Homo sapiens: one gene and its partner. The gene in region 2 interacts genetically with the main gene of each other region. Each region holds a gene or a part of one and is shown on either strand. Other genes may lie near its edges.

Evidence for each region.
Region 1: of HTT (region 2) and RNF4, changing one suppresses a phenotype caused by changing the other (phenotypic suppression), as found in Homo sapiens cells (one study listed by BioGRID).

The regions. Positions count from the first base shown.
Region 1 is NC_000004.12:2,492,636-2,500,633, reverse strand, and holds part of RNF4 (E3 ubiquitin-protein ligase RNF4), read right to left. Parts: intron 3,628-7,998; coding exon 3,513-3,627; intron 1-3,512. UniProt on the Homo sapiens protein: E3 ubiquitin-protein ligase which binds polysumoylated chains covalently attached to proteins and mediates 'Lys-6'-, 'Lys-11'-, 'Lys-48'- and 'Lys-63'-linked polyubiquitination of those substrates and their subsequent targeting to the proteasome for degradation.
Region 2 is NC_000004.12:3,238,681-3,244,457, forward strand, and holds the end of HTT (huntingtin), read left to right. Parts: intron 1-137; coding exon 138-298; intron 299-1,165; coding exon 1,166-1,379; 3' UTR 1,380-5,277; downstream 5,278-5,777.

The DNA.
Region 1 (7,998 bases), 750 kb from region 2:
CATTAAGATTAAGAGGAAAGTAAGGTTGTATCCCTCTACACTTTAGTATGACTGCTAATGTTATAGGCTTACCCCAAACTAAAACAATCCTGAAGTATACACTGCAAAGAGCACCAGGACCAACACCTCCCTCAGGAGGGAAAGCCAGTAACCACCCTTCCAGAATTCTGCTCTGAGTGGGGAGGTATGGTTTTTACAAATGTACCTGGGGGGTTATGTATGTGTGCGCATGTGCATACCTCTATTCCACGGCATCCCACTTCCACACGGCTATGCCTCTGTGCCCCATCTGGGAGAACGCACCATGCATGCCCAGCCCCAGGCCTTTCTCTTTGGGATGGACTAGCCTGAAACCTCTGCTCCTCCCAGCAGGTGAAGCTGACCACTCTCACTTGGCCCAAGGACCAAAAGTCAGGCTTAGCTTAGTAACTTCATCGGTTAATCTAGGGCAAATTCTTTTTTTTTTTTTTTTTTTTTGAGACAGAGTCTCGCTCTGTCGCCAAGGCTGGAGTGCAGTGGTGCGATCTTGGCTCACTGCAACCTCCGCCTCCTGGGTTCAAGCAATTCTCTGTCTCAGCCTCCCGAGTAGTTGGGATTACAGGCGCCTGGCAGCATGCCTGGCTAATTTTGTTTGTATTTTTAGTAGAGATGGGGTTTCACCATCTTGGCCAGGCTGGTCTTGAACTCCTGACCTTGTGATCCACCCACTTCAGTCTTCCAAAGTGTTGGGATTACAGGCGTGAGCCACCGTGCCCGGCCAAGGACAAACTTTTAATTTCCATTTATCTCTCAAGTTTGTCTCCCTAGTTGGATGGAGAATAACAGTGATATATACTGATAGCTAGAACCTCAACATACAAAATGGGTTGCATCTGTTGTGAAGCTTGCCTTTCAGCCCTTAGGGTATACTGTGATGTCTACATGTGCACAGGATAAAGGTGAGAAGGACATGGACCAAACAGTTAACGTACAACTTCCATTTATATAAAGTAAAAAATGACGCACAACCATTTTTATTTCTGATTACTATTAATATTAATATTAAAAAGCACGGAATGGGCCAGGCACAGTGGTTCACACCTGTAATCCCAGCACTTTGGGAGGCTGAGGTGGGCGGATCACCTGAGGTTGAGAGTTCGAGACCAGCCTGACCAACATGGAGAAACTCCGTTTCTACTAAAAATACAAAATTAGCGAGGTGTGGTGGCACATGCCTGTAATCCCAGCTACTCGGGAGGCTGAGGCAGGAGAATTGCTTGAACCCCGGGATGCAAAGATCACGCCACTGCACCCCAGCCTGGGCAACAAGAGCAAAACTCCATCTCAAAAACAAACAAACAACAACAACAACAAAACACTAAATGAAGTTTTTTAAGAAACAGTATTGGTCTAATATTTGGGGAAAGTGTCTTGTAATGCATTTAACTTTTTTTTTTTGAGACAGAGTCTCGCTCTGTCGTCCAGGCAGGAGTGCAGTGGCACGATCTCGGCTCACTGCAACCTCTGCCTCCCAGGTGCAAGTGATTCTCCTGCATCAACCTCCCAAGTAGCTGGGATTACAGGCGCCCGCCACCACGCCCGTCTAATTTTTGCATTTTTAGTAGAGATGGGGTTTCGCCATGTTGGCCAGGCTGGTCTTGAACTCCTGACCTCAGGTGATCTGCACGCCTCGGCCTCCCAAAGTGCTGGGATTATAGGAGCCAGCCATGGCGCCCAACCCAACGTAACTTCTTTTATTTATTTTTTAGGTGGGGTCTTGCTGTTGCCCAGGCTAGAGTGCAGTGGCACGATCACGGCTCACTGCAGCCTCAATGTTCCAGGCTCAAGTGATCCTCCTACCTCAGCCTCCCACACTTGGCTAATTTTTTTATTTATAGAGACAGGGTCTCACTATGTTGTCCAGGCTGGTCTGGTACTCCTGGGCTCAAGCAATCTGGCTGGCCTGTTTTATTTTCTTGTATCATAAAGTTTCACAAGAATAAAAACCGTGATAATCTTACATATACAATATAATTTATATAAAATTATTGCATTCTTTATTAAAAAGAAGGGCTGTCCAACAGTCCATATACTGATATACAACAATTTATTGAACCATTCTCTTTCTGGTGAACACAATTCTGGGCTCTTACAAAAACAGTGCTCTAGGCCAGGCGGGTGGCTCAGGCCTGTAATCCCAGCACTTTGGGAGGCCAAGGCAGGTGGATAATCTGAGGTCAGGAGTTCGAGATCAGCCTGACTGACATGGTGAAACCCCGTCTCTACTAAAAATACAAAAAAAATTTAGCCGGGTGTGGTGGTGGGCGCCTATGATCCCAGCTACTTGGGAAGCTGAGGCAGGAGACTTGCTTAAACCTGGGAGGCAGAGGTTGCAGTGAGCCGAGATCACGCGATTGCACTCCAACCTGGCTGACAGAACGAAACTCTGCCTCAAACAGAAACAAAAACAAAACAGTGCTCTAATGGGCAGCCCTAAGTACACACAGGGGTAAGACTGCCTAGAGGATGACAAGTGCCATGACGGAAAGCAGTTCGTTCCTTTTTGGTCTAGAGCCAGGATCCTAGCCTCAAGTCAAGGCTTTCAAGAACTCATTTGTAGAAGTGAAACTCAGAGACCATATAGAGAACTTCATTTCTCCTGGGGGGCCCATGAAATTTATCTTGCACTAAGTTTCTTCTGTTTAAAACGCGAGTTTGCATGGCCGGGTGCAGTGGCTCACGCCTGTAATACCAGCACTTTGGGAGGCCGAGACGGGTGGATCACAAGGTCAGGAGATCGAGACCATCCTGGCTAACATGGTGAAACCCTGTCTCTATTAAAAATACAAAAAATTAGCCGGGTGTGGTGGCGGGTGCCTATAGTCCCAGCTACTTGGGAGGCTGAGGCAGGAGAATGGCGTGAACCCAGGATGTGGAGCTTGCAGTGAGCCGAGACTGCACCACTACACTCTAGCTTGGGCGACAGAGCAAGACTCTATCTCAAAAATAAATAAGTAAAAATAAAATGCCAGTTTGCAGGTATCCTAGTTATAAAAACAATATATGCAGAGCAAAGGGACTTAGGCCAGCCATCAACCACTTCTTGAGCAGGCAGAAGGGGAAATCCAATCTGGCCTCTGCCTATACCAAGCTCCAACACAGGGAGCTCTGTGGACAAGTTTGCCTTCTTGGGTGATTTCATGTCCTAATGAAAAACAGAAGAGGAAAGCGAAGTACTTTACAAGGTCCAGCAATTGGGGATGCAGTTTCAGATAGAAAAGGTGGGCTATCTCATTTGCGCTAGATTTTTTTTTAAATGGATCCTACCCCACTGCTGCACATTACCAGAGTTGAACAGTTAGCCCAGTTGAGAAGCTATTTCAGAATCTGTGAAGCTTTGAGTTGTACATGGTGAGTGTGAGACTGCATAGGCCTTCTAAAGACACTGAAAGCACCTTCTACTAGCTCACCCTGGTACAGTGTTCTCTCTCCACTTTAACACCCCACAGTTGTAGTGTCCCTGGCAATCTTACCAGTTTCCACGAGTTCTATGGGTTCTGCTTCCAAGGAGATCTCGGGGGTGGAGGTTGCTTCCCGAGTTCGCTTCTGAGCTTGTCTAGAATTTATTGCTCCACCACGACGCTTTCTCTGAGTAGCAAGGGGGAAAGAAGAGTCACATGAACACCAGAATGTCAGGGTTTCAGGAAGAACTAAATGGGCAATAGAAATGGTTCACTTCATTAAGAAGCCAGCGAGTAGACTTGAAGTTAGGGCTCCTTTCAAAACTTGAGATTCAAGAATACTGAATGCTTACGGAGAGAGAAACCATCCAAAACATAAAATGAGTAGAAATTCCAGAAAGTAAAACTTCTGTTTTATCAAACTATCAGCAGGTCGGCTGGGCATGGTGGCTCACACCTGTAATCCCAGCACTTTCGGAGGCTGAGGTGGGCGAATCATGAGGTGAGGAGTTCAAGGTCAGCCTGGCCAACATGGTGAAGCCTCATCACTACTGAAAATACAAAAGTTAGCTGGGCGTGGTGGCAGGCACCTGTAATCCCAGCTACTCCAGAGGCTGAGGCAGGAGAATCACTTGAACCTGGGAGGCAGAGGTTGCAGTGAGGCGAGATCGCGTCACTGTACTCTAGCCCGGGTGACAGTGTGAGACTCCATCTCAAAAAAACTATCAGCAGGTCAAAAGGGACACGATGCATCCCTTTACAAAAGCTTGAGGCCAAGTCAGGATTTGGACTTGGTAGTGGATGCCCTGGCCAAAAGGCTGGAAACTCTTCCCTTTAACCAAAAGTTATCAATTTCTCTTCCTTGACTTTGTGTTCAGCCTTTCTGAGCCCTTTTTGTTTCTTAGCATAAAGAACTTGGAGTTTTCTGAGTTTCTATACATTGTGGAAAGCTTATCTTCCCCTGGGAAATGTGGCCTTGAACCTTTCAGGGCACTATCAACTGTGATTCACACCAGACAATCACTCCCCACAAAGAACTCAAAGAACCAAAGCTGTTTTAAGCCTGTTCCCAGTGGCTACCCAAGAGCCATGTCTTCCGGAAAGTTCAGGCTCTCAGCTGGTTGATAAGCAACTGACACTCTGACCAGCCTTTCTTCCAAATCCTTAGGCTGCTGGTTTGCCAATATGCTCCAGCATTTCTGGTCTGCCTGGTCCCAAAAGACAAGCTGAGAATATCCTCCACCTTAATCAAGAGACAGAGCTGGCCAGGCGCAGTGGCTCAGGCCTGTAATCCCAGCACTTTGGGAGGCAGAGGCAGGCGGATCACCAGAGGTCAGGAGTTCAAGATCAGCCTGGGCAACACGGTGAAACCCGTCTCTACTAAAAATACAAAATTAGCTGGGCGTGGTGGCACATGCCTGTAATCCCAGCTACTCGGGAGGCTGAGGCAGGAGAATCACTTGAACCTGGGAGGTGGAGGATGCGGTGAGCCGAGATTGTGCCATTGCACTCCAGCCTGGGCAACAAGAGTAAATCTCCATCTCACCCCCCCCCAAAAAAAAAAGAGCTTCCCAACAGAGCCTGTCACCTTGTATTCCCACTGGTGTTTCCGTGCTCTTCTCCCTGTGCCCTGTCCTGCTATCCTTTGCACTGGACAACCTGGGACAAGTACTGCACTACTAAGTCTCAAGTTCCTCACCAGTACCAGCCTTGCAGAGCTGTTATAAGGTCTAAATGAGATCATGTATGTAAAGTACTGCGCAGAGACGGAAGATGCTACTACTATCCCAATTCCTTAGCCTTACTAGGGTCAATCTGTCCCAGGAAACTCTGAAAGGACCAGATATTGCAGGAGAGATTCATACAAGATCCAGGAACACCCACCATCCAGCCAAGCCCTCGCTAGGCAACAGGGATAAGCCTGATTCTGTGTTCCAATGCTACTCTTATCAAATGGCAGCTTGAGATGTTTTGGAAATGAAGCTGGGTCTAGTAACTTCCCACGGACTAAGGAGCACAGAACCAGCCCCAGGAGGGCCCAGAGGCCAAGCGACAGCAGCCAAAACTCCCAAGTGAGCAGCTGCTCTTGGCCTCAAGGGAGCTGACACTAACCTCAGTGGAGTTCTACTGCCCAGTGTTTTAAGGGTTTCCCCAGCAGCCACCAGGTTGCTTATGTAAAAAGTAAAGTAGAGGTTCCTCTTCAAAGACTTTCCTCCCCATCTAATTAGAAATAAATAGTAACTTCTCTTAAAAGCAAAATTTATTCAAAGACCTGTACTAACATTCTTAAATATCTGCTAGCCATAATAAAGAAATCAATGTACTTTATATTCTTAGCTCCCACAATTTAGCCTAAATATTTACCTTGGCATGCTTATATTAGTCCAAGCAAGCATTAGATCATAGCCTGTTCCTCTTCCTTATTTAAAGGTTATTTTTACCTTTTTCAGCATTCCACAAGTTACTTCCTCCTTCCTTTATTCTCCTCTGCCTTTGCCTCTTTTCAAAAGTTCTGGCCAGGTGTGGTGGCGCATGCCTGTAATCCCAGCACTTTGGGAGGCTGAGGCGGGCGGATCACAAGGTCAGAAGATCGAGACCATCCTGGCTAACACGTAGAAACCCCATCTCTACTAAAAAATACAAAAAAAATTAGCCAGGCGTGGTGGCGGGCACCTGTAGTCCCAGCTACTTGGGAGGCTGCGGCAGGAGAATGGTGTGAACCCGGGAGGTGGAGCTTGCAGTGACCCCGAGATCATGCCACTGCACTCCAGCCTGGGCGACAGAGTGAGACTCTGTCTCCAAAAAAAAAAAAAAAAAAAAGTTCTAAGTTGCTAGCCAATTGGGACAAATACAGAATGTGAGGTCCTGTTCCAGCCAATAAAAACTGGATACAGCAGCAGAGTAAACACATCAAGTTATAAATAACCCTGTCTCCTTTATTCAATGTATTCTCATGGCAAAACAACTGGTGAGTGTACCCTTTCTGCAGAAAGTATAAATATGGCCTTGCTAAAAAAAATTGAATTTACGTTCAAATGCTATTTCTTTACAGCACCAGAAAACAAGCATTTCAAACACTTAGGACTCTTTAATATTTACCCCATTCTCGTGGATCACGAGGTCAGGAGTTCAAGACCAGCCTGGCCAAGATGCTGAAACCCCGTCTCTACTAATAACACAAAAAGTAGCTGGGCGTGGTGGCATGCACCTGTAGTCCCAGCTACTCGGGAGGCTGAGGCAGGAGAATCGCTTGAACCCGGGCAGCAGAGGTTGCAGTGAGCCAATATTGCATCCACTGCACTCCAGCCTGGGCGACAGAGCAAGACTCTGTCTCAAAATAATAATAATAAATAAATGAAAATATTTACCCCATTCTCTTTGACAATGTCCTTTGTCCTCGTATAGGCTCCTTCCCTTGTAGCCAAGTCTTTTTTTTTTTTTTTTTTTTTTAAGACGGAGTCTCACTCTGTTGCTCAGGCAGGAGTGCAGTGGAATGATCTCGGCTCACCACAACTTCTGCCTCCCAGGTTCAAGCGATTCTCCTGCCTCAGCCTCCCGAGTAGCTGGGATTACAGGCACCCGCCACTGTGCTTAGCTAATTTTTTTGTATTTTTAGTGGAAACGGGGTTTCACCATGTTGGCCAGGCTGGTCTCGAACTCCTGACCTTGTGATCCACCATGCCCAGCCTGTAGCAGACCAAGTCTTTCTTACTAGGCACTGCTAAGCAGACCTCCATGTCCCACAGCTACCTGTGTGGTTTCTGGGCCCCACTGAGGGAGCCAAGAAAGCAGCCATGGGTCCTGGACCCAAAATCTCCCCTCACGGATAATTACAGGAATGTCCCCACCCCTCCCTAACCTCAGGAATCCTCTTTTCTGCCTGCTCTATCGACCCCTCCATGCCTTTAACCAGAGCTTCTTCCCTGCCTGGAGTGCCTGTCCCTCCCTTTCTTTACTTGGCCAATTCTTGCACAGCTTTCCAGAACCCACTCAAATGTCACCTCCTTCCTGAGGACATCCTTTACCCTCCCACTCTGCTGTCTCTGAGCCTCCTCCTCCCAAGTAGCTTCCCTGCACCACTCAAGACAGGCTCAATCAATCCAGGAATATCTGCAGAGCTCCCCACTCTGGCCCTCCCATAATTCTGGTCATAATTCTCTTCCTTTTCACTAGCAGGGCCCTCAGAGGTCCATAGCTTTTGGTGAAAACTGACCATCCTATCACAACCACATAAGCTATAACCACACCGTAACTTTCAGGAATTTTAACCAATTTCTTCACACACATGCACAAAAGGCTACATTGTTTTGCCTGTTCTGATCTGGCCTAAGCAGAGATGGGTTAAGGCTTAAAGCACCTATTTCCCCATAGGTGAGCTACATGGTAACCTGCAGGTGAAGCACCAAGGTGGGAGGTCAAAGAAGTGGGCTTTTTTGTGTATCACCATCAAAAGTGGGCCCTGGAGCACAATGGCGGCCAGGAAGTAACAGAAGAGGGTGAGGACCCAAAAGGCTCAGAGGGTGTGACCAGCATTTCCATCACTGTTCCCTCTGACAGC
Region 2 (5,777 bases):
ATTCGCCAGCAGAGCCCAGCTCCTCCGCTTTAAAGCAGCAATGCCTCTGGCCCCCACCCCACCCCCGCCACCCAGGCGCAGCAGGTGCTTCCCGTCCCCCCAGCCCTGACACTCAGGCACCTGCTTGCTCCTTGCAGGTGTTTCAGACTCTGCACAGCACCGGGCAGTCGTCCATGGTCCGGGACTGGGTCATGCTGTCCCTCTCCAACTTCACGCAGAGGGCCCCGGTCGCCATGGCCACGTGGAGCCTCTCCTGCTTCTTTGTCAGCGCGTCCACCAGCCCGTGGGTCGCGGCGATGTATCCTCTCTGGGTCCCTGGTGCTGGCCCCGTTTCCCTTGTCAACACCGAGGCTCATGTTTCATGATAAGGTTTTGAAACCTAACCTTTGCAAAAACCCCACAGATGCCAGGGTGACAGGCCCTCAGCCCCAGGGAAGTAAAATGCTGACAGGGGTACAGAAAGGAGCACGTCCAGACATTTGCTGACCAGGGCCTCTCAGAGGGGCCGGTGTATGGCAGGAGGGTCGCAGCTGAGGGGCCTTTCTGTGGAGGGCCTGGGTGAGGGGAGCGAGGGTGGGCGGTGGTCTCTGCAGACGTCCCGCCCACTCGCGGGCTCTGTGTGGCTGGGCTTCTCCTGACACTGCTTCTCATTAGCTTTGGTCATTGTGCCTCGATCGCCCTCTCGGGGAAAGGCTTAAGTAAAGATCCAGTTCCCACCCCCAGATGCTGGCTGCCAGGAGTTTCCCTTTCCACAGCCCTTCCCCAAGACAGACCACAAGAGCCTCCAAGCAGCACAGTTGTCCTGGTGCTGACAGCACAGCCTTGCCCGGCGTGCCTGGCACGGCTCTGCCCTCACTGCATTGGAGCAGGGCTAGTGGAGGCCAGCGGAAGCACCGGCCACCAGCGCTGCACAGGAGCCAGGCCAGGTGAGTGCTGCCGAGTGGGTGCCCTGCCTGCAGGGCATCCAGCCAGCCAAGGGTTGCAGGAATGGAGGTGGAGGCGCTGATGCAGCTGGAGGCATCCAGGTGGCCCTTCCGGGGCTCTGCTCGCTCTCCAGGCTCCCTGGACCCCTTTGTAGACTGTTTCAGGAGAGGAACTCCCAGGTGAGGACAGGGAGGCAGCATTCCCCTCATTTGCCGGCCTTTTTCCTTAACTCCTGCACCAGCCTCCCACATGTCATCAGCAGGATGGGCAAGCTGGAGCAGGTGGACGTGAACCTTTTCTGCCTGGTCGCCACAGACTTCTACAGACACCAGATAGAGGAGGAGCTCGACCGCAGGGCCTTCCAGTCTGTGCTTGAGGTGGTTGCAGCCCCAGGAAGCCCATATCACCGGCTGCTGACTTGTTTACGAAATGTCCACAAGGTCACCACCTGCTGAGCGCCATGGTGGGAGAGACTGTGAGGCGGCAGCTGGGGCCGGAGCCTTTGGAAGTCTGCGCCCTTGTGCCCTGCCTCCACCGAGCCAGCTTGGTCCCTATGGGCTTCCGCACATGCCGCGGGCGGCCAGGCAACGTGCGTGTCTCTGCCATGTGGCAGAAGTGCTCTTTGTGGCAGTGGCCAGGCAGGGAGTGTCTGCAGTCCTGGTGGGGCTGAGCCTGAGGCCTTCCAGAAAGCAGGAGCAGCTGTGCTGCACCCCATGTGGGTGACCAGGTCCTTTCTCCTGATAGTCACCTGCTGGTTGTTGCCAGGTTGCAGCTGCTCTTGCATCTGGGCCAGAAGTCCTCCCTCCTGCAGGCTGGCTGTTGGCCCCTCTGCTGTCCTGCAGTAGAAGGTGCCGTGAGCAGGCTTTGGGAACACTGGCCTGGGTCTCCCTGGTGGGGTGTGCATGCCACGCCCCGTGTCTGGATGCACAGATGCCATGGCCTGTGCTGGGCCAGTGGCTGGGGGTGCTAGACACCCGGCACCATTCTCCCTTCTCTCTTTTCTTCTCAGGATTTAAAATTTAATTATATCAGTAAAGAGATTAATTTTAACGTAACTCTTTCTATGCCCGTGTAAAGTATGTGAATCGCAAGGCCTGTGCTGCATGCGACAGCGTCCGGGGTGGTGGACAGGGCCCCCGGCCACGCTCCCTCTCCTGTAGCCACTGGCATAGCCCTCCTGAGCACCCGCTGACATTTCCGTTGTACATGTTCCTGTTTATGCATTCACAAGGTGACTGGGATGTAGAGAGGCGTTAGTGGGCAGGTGGCCACAGCAGGACTGAGGACAGGCCCCCATTATCCTAGGGGTGCGCTCACCTGCAGCCCCTCCTCCTCGGGCACAGACGACTGTCGTTCTCCACCCACCAGTCAGGGACAGCAGCCTCCCTGTCACTCAGCTGAGAAGGCCAGCCCTCCCTGGCTGTGAGCAGCCTCCACTGTGTCCAGAGACATGGGCCTCCCACTCCTGTTCCTTGCTAGCCCTGGGGTGGCGTCTGCCTAGGAGCTGGCTGGCAGGTGTTGGGACCTGCTGCTCCATGGATGCATGCCCTAAGAGTGTCACTGAGCTGTGTTTTGTCTGAGCCTCTCTCGGTCAACAGCAAAGCTTGGTGTCTTGGCACTGTTAGTGACAGAGCCCAGCATCCCTTCTGCCCCCGTTCCAGCTGACATCTTGCACGGTGACCCCTTTTAGTCAGGAGAGTGCAGATCTGTGCTCATCGGAGACTGCCCCACGGCCCTGTCAGAGCCGCCACTCCTATCCCCAGGCCAGGTCCCTGGACCAGCCTCCTGTTTGCAGGCCCAGAGGAGCCAAGTCATTAAAATGGAAGTGGATTCTGGATGGCCGGGCTGCTGCTGATGTAGGAGCTGGATTTGGGAGCTCTGCTTGCCGACTGGCTGTGAGACGAGGCAGGGGCTCTGCTTCCTCAGCCCTAGAGGCGAGCCAGGCAAGGTTGGCGACTGTCATGTGGCTTGGTTTGGTCATGCCCGTCGATGTTTTGGGTATTGAATGTGGTAAGTGGAGGAAATGTTGGAACTCTGTGCAGGTGCTGCCTTGAGACCCCCAAGCTTCCACCTGTCCCTCTCCTATGTGGCAGCTGGGGAGCAGCTGAGATGTGGACTTGTATGCTGCCCACATACGTGAGGGGGAGCTGAAAGGGAGCCCCTCCTCTGAGCAGCCTCTGCCAGGCCTGTATGAGGCTTTTCCCACCAGCTCCCAACAGAGGCCTCCCCCAGCCAGGACCACCTCGTCCTCGTGGCGGGGCAGCAGGAGCGGTAGAAAGGGGTCCGATGTTTGAGGAGGCCCTTAAGGGAAGCTACTGAATTATAACACGTAAGAAAATCACCATTCCGTATTGGTTGGGGGCTCCTGTTTCTCATCCTAGCTTTTTCCTGGAAAGCCCGCTAGAAGGTTTGGGAACGAGGGGAAAGTTCTCAGAACTGTTGGCTGCTCCCCACCCGCCTCCCGCCTCCCCCGCAGGTTATGTCAGCAGCTCTGAGACAGCAGTATCACAGGCCAGATGTTGTTCCTGGCTAGATGTTTACATTTGTAAGAAATAACACTGTGAATGTAAAACAGAGCCATTCCCTTGGAATGCATATCGCTGGGCTCAACATAGAGTTTGTCTTCCTCTTGTTTACGACGTGATCTAAACCAGTCCTTAGCAAGGGGCTCAGAACACCCCGCTCTGGCAGTAGGTGTCCCCCACCCCCAAAGACCTGCCTGTGTGCTCCGGAGATGAATATGAGCTCATTAGTAAAAATGACTTCACCCACGCATATACATAAAGTATCCATGCATGTGCATATAGACACATCTATAATTTTACACACACACCTCTCAAGACGGAGATGCATGGCCTCTAAGAGTGCCCGTGTCGGTTCTTCCTGGAAGTTGACTTTCCTTAGACCCGCCAGGTCAAGTTAGCCGCGTGACGGACATCCAGGCGTGGGACGTGGTCAGGGCAGGGCTCATTCATTGCCCACTAGGATCCCACTGGCGAAGATGGTCTCCATATCAGCTCTCTGCAGAAGGGAGGAAGACTTTATCATGTTCCTAAAAATCTGTGGCAAGCACCCATCGTATTATCCAAATTTTGTTGCAAATGTGATTAATTTGGTTGTCAAGTTTTGGGGGTGGGCTGTGGGGAGATTGCTTTTGTTTTCCTGCTGGTAATATCGGGAAAGATTTTAATGAAACCAGGGTAGAATTGTTTGGCAATGCACTGAAGCGTGTTTCTTTCCCAAAATGTGCCTCCCTTCCGCTGCGGGCCCAGCTGAGTCTATGTAGGTGATGTTTCCAGCTGCCAAGTGCTCTTTGTTACTGTCCACCCTCATTTCTGCCAGCGCATGTGTCCTTTCAAGGGGAAAATGTGAAGCTGAACCCCCTCCAGACACCCAGAATGTAGCATCTGAGAAGGCCCTGTGCCCTAAAGGACACCCCTCGCCCCCATCTTCATGGAGGGGGTCATTTCAGAGCCCTCGGAGCCAATGAACAGCTCCTCCTCTTGGAGCTGAGATGAGCCCCACGTGGAGCTCGGGACGGATAGTAGACAGCAATAACTCGGTGTGTGGCCGCCTGGCAGGTGGAACTTCCTCCCGTTGCGGGGTGGAGTGAGGTTAGTTCTGTGTGTCTGGTGGGTGGAGTCAGGCTTCTCTTGCTACCTGTGAGCATCCTTCCCAGCAGACATCCTCATCGGGCTTTGTCCCTCCCCCGCTTCCTCCCTCTGCGGGGAGGACCCGGGACCACAGCTGCTGGCCAGGGTAGACTTGGAGCTGTCCTCCAGAGGGGTCACGTGTAGGAGTGAGAAGAAGGAAGATCTTGAGAGCTGCTGAGGGACCTTGGAGAGCTCAGGATGGCTCAGACGAGGACACTCGCTTGCCGGGCCTGGGCCTCCTGGGAAGGAGGGAGCTGCTCAGAATGCCGCATGACAACTGAAGGCAACCTGGAAGGTTCAGGGGCCGCTCTTCCCCCATGTGCCTGTCACGCTCTGGTGCAGTCAAAGGAACGCCTTCCCCTCAGTTGTTTCTAAGAGCAGAGTCTCCCGCTGCAATCTGGGTGGTAACTGCCAGCCTTGGAGGATCGTGGCCAACGTGGACCTGCCTACGGAGGGTGGGCTCTGACCCAAGTGGGGCCTCCTTGTCCAGGTCTCACTGCTTTGCACCGTGGTCAGAGGGACTGTCAGCTGAGCTTGAGCTCCCCTGGAGCCAGCAGGGCTGTGATGGGCGAGTCCCGGAGCCCCACCCAGACCTGAATGCTTCTGAGAGCAAAGGGAAGGACTGACGAGAGATGTATATTTAATTTTTTAACTGCTGCAAACATTGTACATCCAAATTAAAGGAAAAAAATGGAAACCATCAGTTGTTGCTGTGTGAGGCTTGCTTTGCTTCATGAGAACCTAGACCTTGCTGAGCTGGAGTCTTAGGAAGCAGTCTCCTAAGTGCTTCTCCAGCAGGGGCAGAAACTGTCCCACCAGCTAACATCTGGCATTATGGAGGGTCCCCCAGGCAGCTGCCAGCAGGGACAGGCCCCGTGTTTTCTGTAGCCAGGGATGAGGAAGTGGCCCCAGGGCATGGGCCTGGCTGGGTGCTTCTGCAAGGGCCTTCCCAAACCACAGTACAGGTGGTCTTCCTGCCCTGCAGATGGGAGCTGTGGGAGCTGCTGGAGCTGCTGGAGCCTTCATGGTCAAGTGACATCATAAGCTTATATGACATACACAAGCCTCAGGACTTGGCCCATGGCACTGAAGCAGGTCATCAGGCCCAGCACAGAGACTAGAGCTGTGTTCTCACAGGGCCCACCACCCTTCCACCTCCTTGGCCATTGACACCTGCGTCCCTGGCCCAGCTGCTCCCAG